Regions from separate parts of the Homo sapiens genome. Here regions 2, 3 and 4 are each linked to region 1. The links come from fine-mapping of genetic effects on gene expression. A gene starts in region 1. Each other region holds a variant in brackets. All regions are shown on one strand. Distances are from middle to middle. Region 1 holds the start of EYA3 (EYA transcriptional coactivator and phosphatase 3). Region 2 overlaps EYA3 (EYA transcriptional coactivator and phosphatase 3). Region 3 overlaps EYA3 (EYA transcriptional coactivator and phosphatase 3). Region 4 overlaps EYA3 (EYA transcriptional coactivator and phosphatase 3).

What was found. PIP is the estimated chance that this variant, and not a neighbour inherited with it, causes the effect.
Region 2: its variant is the best candidate, but not a certain one, in a credible set for the expression of EYA3 in gastroesophageal junction (GTEx, PIP 0.59).
Region 3: its variant is the best candidate, but not a certain one, in a credible set for the expression of EYA3 in whole blood (INTERVAL, PIP 0.70).
Region 4: its variant is the best candidate, but not a certain one, in a credible set for the expression of EYA3 in whole blood (TOPMed, PIP 0.60).

What each region holds. Positions count from the first base shown.
Region 1 is chr1:28,087,261-28,089,947 of GRCh38, reverse strand. It overlaps EYA3 (EYA transcriptional coactivator and phosphatase 3), which reads left to right and starts at 1,338. Exons shown (of 18, transcript NM_001990.4): 1 at 1,338-1,424. RefSeq lists enhancers at 1,399-1,468, 1,679-1,738.
Region 2 is chr1:28,021,118-28,023,804 of GRCh38, reverse strand. All of the region lies in intron 7 of EYA3 (EYA transcriptional coactivator and phosphatase 3), which reads left to right. Among named protein-coding and RNA genes, the nearest start is that of XKR8, 62 kb to the right of the region's middle. The variant C/T (reference allele first, on the strand shown) is at 1,593.
Region 3 is chr1:28,061,553-28,064,239 of GRCh38, reverse strand. The region is part of intron 1 of EYA3 (EYA transcriptional coactivator and phosphatase 3); the gene reads left to right. Among named protein-coding and RNA genes, the nearest start is that of EYA3, 26 kb to the left of the region's middle. The variant CAGTT/T (reference allele first, on the strand shown) is at 1,248.
Region 4 is chr1:28,016,167-28,018,853 of GRCh38, reverse strand. It overlaps EYA3 (EYA transcriptional coactivator and phosphatase 3), which reads left to right. Exons shown (of 18, transcript NM_001990.4): 8 at 1,615-1,700. Among named protein-coding and RNA genes, the nearest start is that of XKR8, 58 kb to the right of the region's middle. The variant C/T (reference allele first, on the strand shown) is at 1,468.

The sequences.
Region 1 (2,687 bases):
TTGTTTTGCTTTGTTTGTTTTGTAGAGACAGGGTCTAATTTTGTTGCCCAGGTGATCTCCAACTCCGGGGCTCAAGCAACCGGTCGACCTCGGCGTCCCAAAGTGCTAGGATTTCAGGCATGAGCCACTGTGCCTGGCCTTGATTATTTTAAAGAGGGCCCCCAAATTGAATAAACGTCAAGTCTCCACAAAGCCTGAATTCAACCTTGCTTCTAGCCCATACTTGGGTTGTAATTTAAAATTAACGAAACATTTAAGAATTTTGCTTCCGAAAACAGTGTGCACGAAGTGAATTGTAAGCCTAATATAATATTAAGAATAAACTAAATTTGGGGATAAAAAGATCACCTTGGGGCTCACGCCTGTAATCCCAGCACTTTGGGAGGCCAAGGGATCAACCGAGCTCCAGAGTTGGAGACCAGCCTGGGCAACATGGCGAAACCCCGTCTCTACCGAAAAATACAAAAATTAGCCGGGCGTGGTGGTGCGCGCCGGTAGTCTTAGCTACTCGGGAGGCTGAGGTGGGAGGATCACTTGAACCCAGGAGGCGGGGGTTGCAGTGAGCCGAGATCGCGCCACTGCACTCCAGCCTGGGCGACAGAGCAAGACTCTGTCTCAAAAAAAGAAAAAAAAAAAGGGATGGGCGCGGTGGCTCACGCCTGTAATCTCAGCACTTTGGGAGGCCCAGGCGGGCGGATCACCTGAGGTCGGGAGTTCAAGACCAGCCTGACCAACATGGAGAAACCCCGTCTCTACTAAAACTACAAAATTAGCCGGGCGTGGTGGCACATGCCTGTAATCCCAGCTACTCGAAAGGCTGAGGCAGGAGGATCGCTTGAACCCGGGAGGCGGAGGTTGCAGTGAGCCGAGATCGCGCCATTGCACTCCAGCCTGGGCAACAAGAGCGAAACTCCGTCTCAAAAAAAAAAAAAAAAAAAGATCACCTTGGGCTAGCCTCCCAAATGTCTTCCAAAACTTCCCACTCATTCTCCTTCCCAGTTTTTCTAAATCTACCAAATGCACCCAACACTTCTTACGTTCCTTTTAGCCAGGTAGGGATTACGCGCATTTTTAAAGACCTCCTTAAAAGTGAAGGCTGTAGTACCGTCAGGACTGCCTAGCGCTCACCCAGAAGCTGCTTGTCTCCGAGGCACTAAGAGGGGCGTGGCCATGGGCGTGGCTCGCCGGGCCGGCGGAGTGGGCGGAGCCTAAAAGCTTCCCCGCCCGGTCAGACTCAACACATGCGCCCAGAGGTTTCTAGTGGAACGAGGTGTGGATTGTGAGGTGACTCTGGCCGCTTACTTCCGGTTCCTAGCGATGCGCATCCGGGTCACGCTAACGCCGCGGTTTCCTCCGCTCGATTGGTTCTACTGTGGGTCTGGACTGATCTCCATGTCCTGTTGTGGGGCTTTTACAGCCTTTGGGTGAGTCTCAGCTGCCAACAGGGTCTGAGCGCAGCCGGGCGAGCACAGCGTGAAGGGGGATGGGTCTAGAGTTCTGCCTCGGTCCTTGTGGGTGGGAGTCTCTTCGCCTGTCCCTTGTCACTGCAGTGCTTCACTCACCTCAGCCCTTTCCTTCACGCTGGCCTCGCCTTATTCACCTCAGCTTAGCCTTCTCGCGCTTCCGTGCCTCTGTCGCCTCGCTGTTTTTCCTCAGCCTCATCAGTCCTTTTCCAACCTCGGTTTCTTGCCTTACGCCTCAGCGCTTCTCTCAGCCACTGCCTCTCCTTTTTTCTCCTCCTCCCTTCTTTTAGAACCTCTTTTCCCCTACCCCTGATCTGGGATCTCAGCGTTCTTTCACCTAGCGAGACGGCCCAGCTTCTCATTGTGCTCACTCTTCACCACGAGAAACTGAGCCTCTCCCTAGGGTCCTAGTTCCTTGTCCCCCAACTTTCTTCAGCTTTGATCCTTCCTCCTGGGACCAGTAGGTGACAGTGCTTCTCCTGGGGTTCTTCTGCCTGTCCTTAGCTAGAGGAGAGCTTTGCCAAAGCCCCGAAATGGGAAGACTTCCCCAGCCTGGGGGAAGTTTTGCCTTAAGGCGCCGGGTTAGACTGAACTCTGGTAGCTTCCATAGTTAGGGTACAACAAAGGCGTTCCTAGTTCTTCGCTTTACCTCAGTTTTGGGGCTCTCTCAAGAGCAGCTAACAGGTGGCAGGCACACGGTACTGCTAGCAGTTGGGCTGGCGCGATCTTGTTAATTGACAAGTCATGAAGAAGTTCTGTCAGTTTTGTGTTCCCATGAGAATGGATGTGCACAGCTGAGGCAAAAACGCCAATATTTTGGGACGTTCAGCTCTGTTTTCGGCATGGACGCTTCTTACAGGACACTTGTGATGATAGAGGACAGAATTTGTGGAGAGATCATTAGCCCCAGATTTATGAATTTATTGTGTTGTTTCCGAAAAGTGGTCTGCTGAAGAGTTCACTATAGTAATTTCAAAGTAATCTTTAAACTTAGTATGCACATATGCATTTTTTCATTTTTACTGTATTAAGTTTTCTATTTGTCTTCCTCTTCCTTCATTAGCCAGACTTTACTTAGAATTACATTACTTAGAAGTACATTACTTAGAATATTCTTCTAACTTTTGTATTTTTTTTTCCTTACCATTTCCACCTTTGTAGTAAAACTATCATTTTCTCATTTTGAGATTTAGGGCACCTTTCTTAAATTTCCCTAGAGGTTTA
Region 2 (2,687 bases), 66 kb after region 1:
AGTATGTTATTATTAACTAAGTCCGTTGTTTATTCAGATTTCCTGTGTTTTTATATGATGTCCTTGTTCTGTTCCGGGATTCCATCCAGGATACCAAATTACATTTAGTTATGTCTCCTTAGGCTCTTCTAGACTTTGTAGTTTCTCAGGCTTTTCCTTGCTTTTAATGACCTTGACAGTTTTGAGGAGTACTGGTCCAGGTATATTTTAAGATGCCCCACTCTTAGAGAATTTATCTGATGTTTTTCTCATTATTACGCTGGGGTTATGGATTTTAAGGAGGAAGGTCACAAAGGCAAGGTGCCATACTATCATCATTATTTATGACTGTTGATGTTGACCTTGATTACCTAATTGAAGTAGTGTTTGTCAGTTTTCTCCATAAAGTTACTCTTTCCTCCCTTTCTGTACTGTATTCTTTAGATAGAATTCACTATGTACAGCCCACAGTTAAGGAATCATGCTGCCCCTTCTTTAGGGTAGAATATCTACATAATGTATTTGGAATTCTTCTGCCCAGATTTGTCTCTTCTCCCCAGTTTGTTGATTTATTCAGTCATTTTTTTGTGGACTCCTAGATATTTAATTTATACTTTGGGTTATAATCCAATACTACTTTATTTATTTTGTTCCAGTTTGGCCACTGGGAGCTCTTTCAGTTGGCTCCTATGCCTTTTGACATACTCCCATTTTTTTAGTTTTTGGTTTTCCCCCCCCCCCCCACCCAGCACTTTCTTACTTCCTGGCACTACAAGATGCTCCAGGCTCATCTTGTATATTACTTATTCAAGTCCTATTATCAACCATTTTTTTTAAGGAATCCTGGTTCCTTTTATTGGAAAAAATGGTATTCAAAACCAAGATTTGGGCTTCCAGCCTGGGCAACAAGGCAAAACCCCATCTCTACAAAAAATATAAAAATTAGCCAAGTGCAGTGGTGCGTGCCTGTAGTCCCAGCTACTTGGGGAGGCTGAGGTGGGAGGATCGCCTGAGCCTTAGGAGGTCGAGGCCTCAGTGAGCTGTGATCGCACCACTGAACTCCAGCCTGGGTAACAGAGTGAGACCCTGTCTCAAAAAAAAGATCTGAGCTTGAGGGGTGCTAATTGCTACTGAGGTGTCAGGTGACATTTATTTTAGGCTTTCTCAGCTGACAGAGCAAACAAATATATGTAGGTATACTAACCTATGTAAATACACATATCTATAAATATTTCTGTATGTCGTAATCTGTATCTGTGTTGAGTTAAACATGAATTCTTACTGATTTCTTGAGCTCTGATCCATTATTACATAGATCATTCTAAACCCTGTCCCTTATTGATCTGAAAATCTCCACTCCAGCAATGAGAATCTTTTAGGCCGGGCGCGGTGGCTCATACCTGTAATCCCAGCACTTTGGGAGGTGGATGCAGGCAGATCACGAGGTCAGGAGATCGAGACCATCCTGGCTAACATGGTGAAATCCTGTCTCTACTAAAAATACAAAAAATTATCTGGGTGTGGTGGTGGGTGCTTGTAGTCCCAGCTACTTGGGAGGCTGAGGCAGGAGAATGGTGTGAACCCAGGAGGCGGAGCTTGCAGTGAGTCGAGAT[C/T]GCGCCACTGCACTCCAGCCTGGGCGACAGAGCGAGACTCTGTCTCAAAAAATAATAATCTTTTATTAGGAGATTTTTATTATTTTGATTTACTAAGCTCCTTGTGTGGAGCAGTGCTTGCACATAGTAGGCACTCAATAAATATTTGATAAAGGATTAAGTGAACGAATGACCCACTTAGGCAATCAGTTTTAACCAAAATATGTACAGCTTCTACTGGATCAGGAATTGTCAGTTATATTAGTCACATAATGAGAGTAAGTTTTAGGAACCCACCTGTCAGCCTTTAGCAGAAAATAATGATTTTAGGCTGGGCGCGGTGGCTCATGCCTGTAATCCCAGCACTTTGAGAGGCTGAGGTGGGCAGATCACTTGAGGTCAGGAGTTTGAGACCAGCCTGACCAACATGGTGAAACCCCGTTTCTACTAAAAATACAAAAATTAGTTGGGAGTAGTGTCAGGCACCTGTAATCCCAGCTACTCGGGGAGGCTGAGGCACGAGAATCGCCTGAACCAGGGAGGCAGAGGTTGCAGTGAGCCAAGATCATACCACTGCACTCCAGCCGGGGTGACAGAGTGAGAGTGCATCTAAAAAAAAAAAAAGAAGAATGATTTTGCCCTTCACACTTAGTGCACACAAGATAGATGTATATGAATCCCACAAATATTTATTGACCATCACCTGCTGTATGTCAGGTGCTTTGCTAGATGCTGGAGATTATAAGACAGCAGGATTCTGCCTTTTTGGAGCTTACAGACTAGTGGGGTGCGGGGGAGAAAACAAGTGAGTAAATACATAACAGATTTTGAACAGTGCTCTGAAAAAAAAATTGATCACTGTGATTAAGAAAACAGAAAAGGTCTTGGTTTTAATAGGTCAAAAAGACCCTCTTTGAGGAAGTGAGTCATGCTGAGGAGCCATCATGCTGGGAAGGCAAGGGGGTTGGAGAGAACAGTCTAGGCAGAGAGAACAATATTGCAAAAGTCCTCAAATGATAAAGAGCTTGTCCGGTTTTGAGTAACTTAAAGAAAGACAGTGTGAGCAAAGGAGGTGAAGTGACATGATCTAAAATTAGAGAGGTGGGTAAAAACTAA
Region 3 (2,687 bases), 26 kb after region 1:
TTTGAAATTGAAAGCAACGTCTCAATGGATTTGAAACTATTAAAGGCTATTGTCTAAAACGTGAAAAATGTATAACTAAAAATAAATGCACATATTAATATTTAAAGTGCATAATTAAGAAAACCTATTGGTGTTTTGTTTTTCTTGTATACCAATAATTAAGCCACTACTGTTGACACTATTTGGCTTTCTGTTTTAACATTGAATGAGTGAAAGTACTTCTTATATTTATGAATTTGCTGCTAAAATCTTGGCCAAAAAAAAAAAATTGTCTAAAATGTGTGGGTGAAAAATGTTAATCATGTATGTTTCTACCTTCCCCCCCAAAGTTGGACACCAACTATATACCGTAGGTTGCTTAAGGTGATTTCACTATTGTTAAATCAATAAGATAAAAATGAAATAGTTGTGTATATGCAACATTGTGTACAGAGGAGATAATGAATAGTATTAAACGTTCTCATCTTCCTTTACCTTTTGTTCCCTAATACCTATTCTACCTTTTAAAATTTCAGACTTCACTGCTCTTTGAATTCATAATTCAAATTTGCACATTATTATTATTGGAAAATCATATCTAATAAAGGTTTTAGGCCGGATGTGGTGGCTCACACCTGTAATCCCAGCACTTTGAGAGGCCGAGGCTGGTGGATCACTTGAGGCCAGGAGTCTGGGACCATCCTGGCCAACATGGCAAAACCCCATCGCTACAAAAATTAACCAGGTGTGGTGGCGCACACCTGTAATCCCAGCTACCTGGGAGGCTGAGGCATGAGAATTGCTTAAACTGGGGAGGTGGAAGTTGCGGTGAGCCGAGATTACGCCGCTGTGCTCCAGCCTGGGTGACAGAGCAAGATGCTGTCTCCAAAAAAAAAAAAAAAAAAAAAGGTTTTAGTTATTTCCCCCCCCAAAAAAAATTAAAAATAAAAAAAAATATATATATATATAAGGCACTTTGGAAAGTGTAGTAAATAAACTTAAAATACAATGTAGTCAGTGAGCAAATCTATGGACTACCTTTTTTCTATGTGGGACTGTGTCATAGATATCCAGTTAACTCCTGAATATCTCTGTACATACTTAGCTGCATGCAAATTCTCTTTCTAGGACCTATAAATCAGACTTTGCCTTACTTAGACACTTCTTTTGAAGTTGTAATTAAGAGTGATATATGCCTTGTTTTCATGGAAAACAATTTGACCTTTATTCTGTGCTTTTTTTTTTTTTTTTTGAGATGGAGCGTTAGT[CAGTT/T]TCCTGTCGCCCAGCCTGGAGTGCAGTGGTGCAATCTCGGCTCACTGCAACCTCCGCCTTCTGAGTTTAAGCAGTTTTCCTCCCTCAGCCTCCTGAGTAGCAGGAATTACAGGCGCGTGCCACCACGCCAGATTAATTTTTTGTATTTTTAAGAGAGACAGAGTTTGACCATGTTGGCCAGGCTAGTTTGAAACTCCTGACCTCAAGTGATCCGCCTGCTTTGGCCTTCTAAAGTGCTGGGATTACAGGTGTGAGCCACTGCACCCAGCCTATTCTGTGCTTTTAAACAAACAGAACACACACACACACACACACACACACACACACACACCTACATATATTTAATTTCTCTTCCTAAGCCTAAGAGCTTTAATAACACATTGAAGCAACCTAATTTCTTGCTTATGGCCATTTACATTTACAGGGTACATAGTATGTTGAACTTGGGACAAAACAGAAACTATGAGGTAGGAATCTAATTTGAATTTTGAAATAAAATATTTGTTACTAATTATTTCCCTTCTAACTTCTAAAGAGTAAAAATAAAATTTATGGCTGCCATATTACAGAAAGATCCTGCTTTTATTTTTAAGCATGCAAAATCTCAATAGTATTCAAAATTGTGTGGCTCTTGAATCAAACCAAAGTTTCTATTTTTTCACTGTCAGCATTCACAGGTAGAGAAGTGTAAAGTCTTAGGAAATACTATTTCTATTCTCAATTTAAAATTTTCTCAGAATTCTGTCCATGAAGGCAAATGAATACTGACAAGCTCTATTTCCAAAAAAGGTGATAAAACAAGTGTATTTAGAAACCAGTAGTAAGAATTGAAATTAGAAAATTGTGAAAAGACATTACTTTCCAAATGTTCTAAAGGTACTTAAAAGATTAACTCGGGGCATGTCTTGTAATTTCATCAGCTGTTTGACTAAGTTTTAATTTATTTTAATTACATTAAAAATCCACTTTTCACTTCTGTGTTACAACTGTTGTATTACTTGATATTTTAAAAGATGAATCTCACTGAATGTAAAATAATGTCAGGTTACATTAATGGTAAAAACAAACAAACAAACAAAAAAAAACCGTTGACCGGGCGCGGTGGCTCACACCTGTAATGCCAGCACTTTGGGAGGCTGAGGTGGGCGGATCACGAGGTCAGGAGATCGAGATCATCCTGGCTAACACGGTGAAACCGCGTCTCTACTAAAAATACAAAAAATTAGCCGGGCGTGGTGGCGGGCGCCTGTAGTCCCAACTATTCAGGAGGCTGAGGCAGGAGAATGGCGTGAACCTGGGAGGCGGAGCTTGCAGTGAGCTGAGATCGCGCCACTGCACTCCAGCCTGGGCGACAGAGCGAGACTCCATCTCAAAAAACAAAAGACAAAAAAAAAAAACACGTTAAATTCTAGAACTAATACAAGGAAACTAATACT
Region 4 (2,687 bases), 71 kb after region 1:
GCTGCTGACCCTGAGGAAGAAGCACTGGATGAAGAATTGGGAGATCCAAGTTGTCATTTTGGTTATCTTCCATTATTTTTGCTGCTGTGGACAAGTTACTTTAATTCTTCTTTGTCCTAGGTTCTTCATCTTAAAGCTGGGGTTGCAGCAATAGCTGTAACTGAACTTACTGTCTTCTGGATTGTCTTCTAAGCCGAGTACCCTTAGGGAAAGGGATGAAAATTATCTAATTTTGACCAGAGCACTTAAGTTTCTATTGCATTTGTTCTCCTGCCCTGTTCTCAATGGAAGTTTTCTTACTAATTTTCTCTCTGGGGGACTTTGTTAATGGGGCAGGTAGTCAGTTAGTCAGGTCTACCTGATGGTGAACCCATATGGTGTGTGTACCTGCAGTAGGAACCATGTCTAAGTGTGTTTATGATAAATGAGGACAAGGAGTTTGAGAACAGTACTGATAATATCAGTTACATTGTTCACCTGAGAAAAGTCACTGGTTAGTGCTAGTCATTGAGATTTTGATTAAAACCCTAGTAGAATGAACCTATGACAGAAGAAGTATAAAACTTAACCCAAATTACTTGTCTTTATTTTTATTGTTTTATGTGAATGGAAATCAGCATTTTCTTTCTTTTTTTTCTTTTTTCTTTTCTTTTTTTTTGAGACAGAGTCTTGCTCTGTCACCCAGGCTGTAGTGCAGTCATGCGATTTTGGCTCATTGCAACCTCCACTTCCTGAGTTCAAGCGATTCTCATGTCTCAGCCTCCTGAGTAACTGGGATTACAGGCCCGTGCCCACCATACCCAGTTCATTTTTATATTTTTAGTAGAGATGGGGTTTCACCACGTTGGCAAGGCTGGTCTCAAACTCCTGGCCTCAAATGATCTGCCTGCCTCGGCCTCCGAAAGTGCTGGGATACAGGCATGAGCCACCACACCTGGCCTCAAATTACTTAAGACAGCCCAAGTATCATATAAGGTACATTTTTATCTGACCAGAGTAATATTTAATATTTTCTGAGTTTTTCCAGGCTCATTGTTAAAGTCTCTAAATGCTATGTCATTGTGTTTATTGATCCACATTAGTAATCTATTATTTGAGTAGAACTCAAGAAGCAATTCTAAATGCTTTGGAATTTGGAGGACCAGCTCTATTTCTCATGTAATTATGTTGTATTAGGAAAGGCGTAACTTGGGGCAAGTGACAGCAAACAATATCACAGTGTAAGATTTACCAGAGTTCTACTGCTTTACAGTAGGTCACATTGCAGGTGAGTCATTTTTCAGCCTCTGGAGAAGATGGGCTGGAGGAATTGGATTTAGCTGTGATTTCATTGATATTATTAGTATGAGCTGTGAATTGAATATATATCCTTTTAGGCCTTTAATAAGAAGAATTGAAGACTCAAGTTGAAACAGAAAGATGTTTCAAATGTTTTGTTTTTAACCAAGTGTAAATGTAGCTATCCCA[C/T]ACAAAAAAGCAAAACGAGTGTTTGTTTCCTTTGCCAATGTTGTTTATCTCCTTATAAATCTGTTCACTTAAAACACATCTATTTTCAGTTTCTTCTAACCTTTTACATAATATCTTTAATATCTTTTAACCCCATCAATCCTCTAGCTTCAAGCACAAATGCCAGCCTGATATCTACTTCTTCTACAATTGCCAATATTCCAGCAGCAGCAGTAGCCAGCATCTCAAACCAGGTATGATGCTACCTTTGTTCATCCTGTTTGATAGAGTTCATCCAGCTTGCTCTTTCTTCTTTCCATGGTCAATTTGCCTATCTAAGAAACAACCAGGAATAGTATGGGCTGTGGAGACTTTTTTCTGGATACCTTCAGAACTCGGACCCTGGATGGCATCTTAGGTTACTGTCTAGTTTTTGTTGTTCCTCTGCTGGGTCTCTCTAGAATATGGTTATGTCTGTTTCTTTACTGTATTTGTCTTCACTTCCTACTCTGCCCCTACTAGAATGTAAGCTGCATGAAGGTAGGGATTTATTTTTCTGTTTTGTTCATTTACATATTCCCAGAGTATAGAAAAATGCCTGCCACTTACATCAAAGGCACTTGATAAATATTTATGGAATGAACAACTCATTCTTTATGAATTTTTTGTGGTCTATTCTTGATCACTGTTATGTTAACTATGCTTAGGAGATCACTGGTAACACCTTCAGTGTTCTAGAGTTTTTTATTTTTGTTTTGATTTGTTTTCTCTACAGCAATTATCATCACCACTGTCTCCTTGGATCTTTTCCTGGCTACAGTTAACATTACTATTCTGGTTATTATACTGGTTTTGCTTTTTTTTTTTTTTTTTTTAAGATGGAGTCTCACTCACTCTGTCGCCCAGGCTGGAGTACAGTGGTGCGATCTTGGCTCACTGCAACCTCTGCCTCTCAGGTTCAAGTGATTATCCTGCCTCAGCCTCCTGAGTAGCTGGAACTATAGTCATGTGCCACCATGCCCAGCTAATTTTTGTGTTTTTAGTAGAGATGAGGTTTCACATGTTGGCCAGGCTGGTCTCAAACTCCTGACTTAGAGTGAACCGCACCCGCCTTGGCCTCCCAAAGTGCTGGGATTACAGGTGTGAGCCACCGCGCCCAGCCTTGTTTATTCTTTTAGTCCACAAATATTTATTGAGTTCCCACCTGTGTACCTGGTATTTTTCTAAGGACTGTCTCTTTC